Linked DNA regions of Homo sapiens. The protein of the gene in region 1 purifies or fractionates together with the protein of each later gene. This does not show direct contact. Each region holds a gene or a part of one and is shown in the gene's direction. Other genes may lie near its edges.

Region 1 (3,652 bases):
CTTATCATTTCTCTTTGCAAGAACAGGTTTGTCTGCCCTTAGCTCTCTCTAGTAGACTATAAATCCCTGGAGGGCCAGGACTGTGCCTTGTTCATTGTTACATTCCCAGTTCCTGCCAAGGCATCCTGTTCACCTGATAAGCACCAAAAAGTGTTTGTCAAATGAATAAATACATGGATAAATTTTGCAGATGAATGGTGAATATGATGAAACATTATAAAAATCTATTCCCCATCTCTTCTGACCATGCTGAACTGGTATTTGCTTTTAGTTAATGGTATTTATCTAATGCTTTTATTATCTTCATAAAACTCTTCTCTCTCCTAATCACCACTTAAGACATTTGAAATATTTATTTTCTTGGAAAGGAAATGCACTGGCATTTTAAACTGGATATATATTTAGTATATTCAGCTGGATCCCATTTGGCAATTAAAATTTTTCGATAAATTCATAAACTTATCTTCATGACATAATAAATACGAGCACAATAAATATTTCCTCGTATTTACTGATTCTAGAGAACACTTAAATATTTGAAGACCTAAGTATATGCTCGCATCCTGAGAAAGCATTTTTCATAGAAAGGCATAGACCAAATAATAAAAGTTTACATGATTATACTTTTGACAGCAAAGCTCCTCTTTCTTGAATTTATCCTGCCAGAAAACCAGAGAAAAATGAGGCAACAGTAATGAAATTTAAATAGGGCATAAGCAGAATTCTTTCAAAAATAAACAGTTAAAAGTGTGTTGCTTTGCATTAAGCTTCTCTCATGTCAGAGCACTGGTCCATTTGGTCTACTACTCTCTAGTAGTAGAAAAATAGTTCATTCAGGCTAGTTTTTCTCCCTTTTTGTGTCTCATTTTAATCCACATGTTACTGGTTTATGTAAGCTATGCATTTATATTCCTCATTTAATAAATATACATCCTAATCGTGTATTCCTCTGGAAATAGTTATGTCTTCTTTGTTGCCTCCTTTTTTATTGTTTCATAAGATCTCAAAATTTGATTCCTTCCTCAACCATATTGCTTACACAGGTCTGCCTTGTGCCCCCATTCAATAATGTTTATTACTAAAAAGTATCATTGCTATATCACCAATATGCCATTTTATATACAGCACATGTGGCTAAAGAGATCCCTTGGGGGGCATTATGTCAAAGCTTCTCTCTTGAGGTAGTCAATTTGTGTAATTCAATTAAATAGTTGTTTTAATCTGGAACTTAATGTAGGGCTCTAATAAGATTTAAATCCTTAGAAGAATAAAGGTGAGGAATATCTAACTGTTCAATAGTCCTGATGGACTCGTTACAGACATTTTTTCTTGCCATTTTCACTCCAAGGGAGGAATAAATGAGAAACTGAGATAGTGACTGATTTGACCATGACATGGACCAGGTCACAGCCTCCCAGGTCTGCCCACACTCCTCCACGACTTAGCCACAGGTCTAACCATTGGAACCCACACTGAGTAGGCAGTTTTGGCATTTGCGTGCTTTGGATTCCTCAGATTTTGTAAAACGGTCTTGTATTTTAATAGCAATTCCTTGATATTATTCAGCTTTGGGAATCCAGGTCACAAGAAAGAATCTGTAATCAACTTCAGGAATCTTCCTAACCCAACAAATGTTTTTTAACTATAGGAGTGAGTTTAGCGCTGACAGATTTGATTTGTTACTTCTAATTATGCTACTGTTCCCAAATTGTGAAAGATAATGATGAAGATAAAATATACTATTATATTTAAAAGTCAAACTGGGTTTGCTGTTACAGATTTTGTAGTTTAGAAGCCTAGTTTAATCTAAAATGTTTTACCATCTGTACTTATTTTTTCTTTATCTTCATCATAATTACTATCCCGTCTTTGTCCCTCCCTGCTAAAGATTCCATTTCTCTTCCTACCTCCACAGTCTTGCATATCTGTACTCAGAACACAGGACTTCATCTCCTTTCATTTTTTTTTTGTCAAAATTCCCCCATTCTCCAAGAGCTAGCTTATCAGTATCACCCTTTTTGTAAAAACATCCCAATTAATTAGTCACACTAATCTTATTCTGTATCTTAATAGCAACTCTTCCTTTCCTGGTCATTTAGTAGAATTTAACAATCTGGGCATCACTTTTTTGAGCAACTGATATTCAGAATTCTAATGGGCATGATAACATACATTATTTCTATTCTTTACAGTTGGGCAAAGCTAGAATTATTTTCCCCATTACACAGATCAAGTCTCTCTCTCAACCATCTCTTAACTATATCTCCTATACATGCCCCTGATTTTGGCTGTAAGATTTACAGAATCATAAACTGCCAACACTTAAGTAGGAGCTGAGAAGCCCCCTTATTTTACTTAATGAGGCAACAGAGGCCCAGAGAAGAGGTTAAATGACTATCCAGAAGTCACATGGCCAACACTTAAACTCAGTTCTTCCCACTCCCAGTCTGATATCCTTTCTCCAGCCAATTGTCACATTAGTTTTTCATCTTACTTCCCCCATCTCATACACATGATGGTCTGGACTGAAAGCCTAAAATTAGACAGGGGCTCCATTTTACTTTGTTGTTTTCCACCATCAAAAGTACAAGTATAGTTTCTTATATTCAAATTGGCAATTCAATTATGTGTGTGTGTGTGTGTGTGTTTGGTAGAGACAGGTTTCACCATGTTGGCCAGGCTGGTCGGAATTCAATTATTTTAAAAGTCCATCTTGGAAATGTGTAGAGAATATAAACAAGTCATACATTCATATATCTCATCCATCTAGGCTTGCTATCATGACCCTTAGAAAACCAAACTAGCTAATATTTATGTGTTTCTGGCTGTTCTGCATTGACATGCATAATCTTACAGCAAAACAAAATTCTCTGACTTCATGGAGTTTACATTCTAGTGGAGGGAAATGAAAAACAAATTAAGAAAGGAACTTCTTCTGACCTCAAAGTGCCTCTAGTGTAATAGACAAGGCAAGCATACGTGTGTGTACATAATTATAATATTTCTTGGTTGTTATTTTAGGGGTCTCAACAACATGCTGTGATAGCACATGGAAGAGAATAATTCCCTCTAGTCAGGGAAGGGAGGAAAGGCTTCAAAGCCAAACTTACATCTGAGCCTGTTCTATTATTCTTGAGTTTCTAAACTTGAGTTTAGAAAGATACATTACATCATATTCTCAGAGTTGGAACAATTGGAGTAAACCAGGTTCATAGTAATTTTTTGGTCCATTTCATACTGTGATTATGCATGACTGACCAGAAAAAAAAAGTCAAAATCAAGTAATCTTTCCAACTTAAGCCTCTCTCTATATATTCATATTCATGTATCTATTATATTCCGTTGCAGGAGCTTTCTTCCTCTATGCTGGATTTGCTGCTGTGGGACTCCTTTTCATCTATGGCTGTCTTCCTGAGACCAAAGGCAAAAAATTAGAGGAAATTGAATCACTCTTTGACAACAGGCTATGTACATGTGGCACTTCAGATTCTGATGAAGGGAGATATATTGAATATATTCGGGTAAAGGGAAGTAACTATCATCTTTCTGACAATGATGCTTCTGATGTGGAATAATTTTCAGCTGCTCATATATTTAGTTATTTAAACAAACTGGGGGGAGAAGAACAGCAATTGGTGACTTCACTGCCCTG
Region 2 (3,652 bases), on another chromosome or scaffold:
AATCTGTATGATTGTTATTTTTTTGTACTCAATATTACTGAATAACCTAAGAATGCTTTCAGTTGTTGAGAAATGTAACTTTTAAATGTATTCAAGAAACATTTGTAGTGTACATATTATATATAGGGTATTGCACCAGGCAGTGGAGTTGGATACAAGCAGAGCAGGTATTGGTCCCTGACTTGAAGGATTCTAGCAAAAGAAACAGACAAACTGGTGCTTATAAGGGTTATAAGGAAAGTACAAGGTCCTATGGGACTGCATAACCAAAGCACTTACGAACTTAAAGAGACAAAAATTTCTGAGAGGAGGTCAATTAAGATGTGAACCTGAGTCCAGTATGGTGGCACCCAGTGGCAGTGTGAACTGTGAGGAGTTCGCCGAGTTCCAGGAATTACTCAAGGTGATGTGGACAGTTGATACAGACTAGTACATTAATTAAACACTACAGTTCCAACAGCTTCCTTTGCAGGGAAGATTGATGCCAGCCAAACCTGTAAACAACTTTGAGTCTTTGATGGCAGCTCATGCCAGTAGGGACAGAGTCATAAAAAACTATATAGCCCAGACCTCAGCAGTAGTAAAAAACCTCTGAGAAGAGAGAGAAAAGAATTTGGACGATTTAATATTGTTAAAGCAACTCAGAACAGAGCAGGCAAAGTTGAAATGGATGTAGTCAGAATGATAAATGACAGGAGCTGGAAGGAGTTTAATGAATGCTGCCGAATTCACTTCAAACCTCCAAATAAACAGAATAAACGGAGATACTTTTTTTTTTTTTAAAGGACCGGGTCATCTCATAAGAGCTAAGCATGACAAATGTCAACAGGGCGGGCTTCCTAGGATGATTTCTGAGCCAGTAGTCCAAGACCTTTTGTTGATTTCAGCCCCACTTAGGCAAGACCTCAAATATAAATAATTCTGATAATTATGGAGAAATCAACTGCTATTTTATACTGATTCTGTTAAAAAAAAAGTTTTGTAACTATTAAAATAATGTTCTGACTCAGTGTAAAAAAAGAAAAACCAAACCTGAAAAAAAAAATGGGAGGAGTTAGCTAGGAAAGAGTATCTGAAGGGGATGGAAAGGGAGGGAAACTCTCACAAGTAGAGGAATCAGCTTGTGCAAAGGCTTAGAGGTATAGAGAGCATCTTAAAAATATTTAATGTGGTCAGAATGTGGGGTTGGGAAGGGAAATGAAAGGATTTGTGATAAACTTCCCCTTTGAGAAGGTCATGTTTTTTTTTTCTTTTTCTTTTTCTTTTTCTTTTATTTTTTAAAATTTGAGACAGAGTCTCTCTGTGGCCCAGGCTGGAGTGCAGTTGCACAATTTCAGCGCACTGCAACCTCTGCCTCCCGGGTTCAAGCGATCCTCCTGCCTCAGCTTCCCAAGTAGCTGGGATTTCAGGCATGCACACCACTATGCCCAGCTAATTTTTGTATTTTTAGTAGAGATGGGGGTTTCACCATGTTGACCAGGCTGGTTTCGAACTCCTGACCTCAAGTGATTGCCCACCTTGGTGCCCCAAAGTGCTGGGATTACAGGCATGAGCCACCGCACCTGCCCGAGAAGTTCATGATTAGATATGAAGGCAACTAGTAAACATACTGGCCTAAAATAAATACAGTGTTTAATCTCTCTATCCAGTCCATTTATGCAGTTTCTTCAAAGCCAGTCTCAAGTGTTTCTCTGTGAAACGTGCCAAACCTCCTTTAGCTAAAATACATCACTCTCTCTAAATTCAGACCTTGTCTGTGTTAGGCTTTTGACAACTAATTACACTGTGATTGAAACCACCATTGCAAAATTATAACTGAGACAGTGAAAGAGATCTGACCTAGCCAAAAAAAGATGGAGCCAGGCATGATGGTTCACGTCTATAATCCTAGCACTTTGGGAGGCTGAGGCGGGCAAATCACTTGGGGCCAGGAGTTTGAGACCAGGCTGGCCAACATGGCAAAACCCCATCTATACTAAAAATACAAAAAAAAAAAACCAGGCATGGTGGTGCACACCTGTTATCCCAGCTGTTAGGCTAAGGCACAAATCACTCAAACCTCGGAGGCAGAGGTTGCGGTGAGCAAAGATCGAGATCGTGCTCCAGCCTGCGTGGCAACTAGACCCTGTCTCATAAAACAAAAATAGAAAAATAAAGCAAAGATGGTAACAGCCCTTTCCTAAAACAAACCCCCTTCTTGCCTGGGGACTAGACTGCCTTTGTAGGTTTAATGAATTAGCCACAGATTAGAAATTATGGTTTAGGAGTCGTGCAGCTGGAAGTTATAAGATTCTTTTTTTTTTTTTTTTTTTTTTAATTTATTTTTTTATTGATAATTCTTGGGTGTTTCTCACAGAGGGGGATTTGGCAGGGTCATGGGACAATAGTGGAGGGAAGGTCAGCAGATAAACAAGTGAACAAAGGTCTCTGGTTTTCCTAGGCAGAGGACCCTGCGGCCTTCCGCAGTGTTTGTGTCCCTGATTACTTGAGATTAGGGATTGGTGATGACTCTTAACGAGCATGCTGCCTTCAAGCATCTGTTTAACAAAGCACATCTTGCACCGCCCTTAATCCATTTAACCCTGAGTGGACACAGCACATGTTTCAGAGAGCACAGGGTTGGGGGTAAGGTCACAGATCAACAGGATCCCAAGGCAGAGGAATTTTTCTTAGTGCAGAACAAAATGAAAAGTCTCCCATGTCTACTTCTTTCTACACAGACACGGCAACCATCCGATTTCTCAATCTTTTCCCCACCTTTCCCGCCTTTCTATTCCACAAAGCCGCCATTGTCATCCTGGCCCGTTCTCAATGAGCTGTTGGGCACACCTCCCAGACGGGGTGGTGGCCGGGCAGAGGGGCTCCTCACTTCCCAGTAGGGGCGGCCGGGCAGAGGCGCCCCTCACCTCCCGGGCGGGGCGGCTGGCCGGGCGGGGGGCTGACCCCCCCCACCTCCCTCCCGGACGGGGCGGCTGGCCGGTCGGGGGGCTGACCCCCCACCTCCCTCCCGGACGGGGCGGCTGGCCAGCCAGAGGGGCTCCTCACTTCCCAGTAGGGGCGGCCGGGCAGAGGCGCCCCTCACCTCCCAGACGGGGCGGCTGGCCGGGCAGGGGGGCTGACCCCCCCCACCTCCCTCCCGGACGGGGCGGCTGGCCGGGCGGGGGGCTGACCCCCCCACCTCCCTCGCGGACGGGGCGGCTGGCCGGGCAGAGGGGCTCCTCACTTCCCAGTAGGGGTGGCCGGGCAGAGGCGCCCCTCACCTCCCGGACGGGGCGGCTGGCCGGGCAGGGGAGCTGACCCCCCCCACCTCCCTCCCGGACGGGGCGGCTGGCCGGGCGGGGGGCCGACACCCCCACCTCCCTCCCGGACGGGGCGGCTGGCCGGGCGGGGGGCCGACCCCCCCACCTCCCTCCCGGACGGGGCGGCTGGCCGGGCAGAGGGGCTCCTCACTTCCCAGTAGGGGCGGCCGGGCAGAGGCGCCCCTCACCTCCCAGACGGGGCGGCTGGCCGGGCGGAGGGCTGACCCCCCCACCTCCCTCCCGGACGGGGCGGCTGGCCGGGCAGAGGGGCTCCTCACTTCCCAGTAGGGGCGGCCGGGCAGAGGCGCCCCTCACCTCCCGGACCGGGCGGCTGGCCGGGCGGGGGGCTGACC

What was found.
Region 2: the proteins of SLC2A13 (region 1) and HIGD1A purify together in Homo sapiens (affinity purification with mass spectrometry; one large-scale study listed by BioGRID and IntAct). This does not show direct contact.

What each region holds. Positions count from the first base shown.
Region 1 is NC_000012.12:39,759,949-39,763,600, reverse strand, and holds part of SLC2A13 (proton myo-inositol cotransporter), read left to right. Parts: intron 1-3,348; coding exon 3,349-3,575; 3' UTR 3,576-3,652. UniProt on the Homo sapiens protein: H(+)-myo-inositol cotransporter. Can also transport related stereoisomers.
Region 2 is NC_000003.12:42,797,961-42,801,612, reverse strand, and holds part of HIGD1A (HIG1 domain family member 1A, mitochondrial), read left to right. Parts: intron 1-3,652. UniProt on the Homo sapiens protein: Proposed subunit of cytochrome c oxidase (COX, complex IV), which is the terminal component of the mitochondrial respiratory chain that catalyzes the reduction of oxygen to water. May play a role in the assembly of respiratory supercomplexes.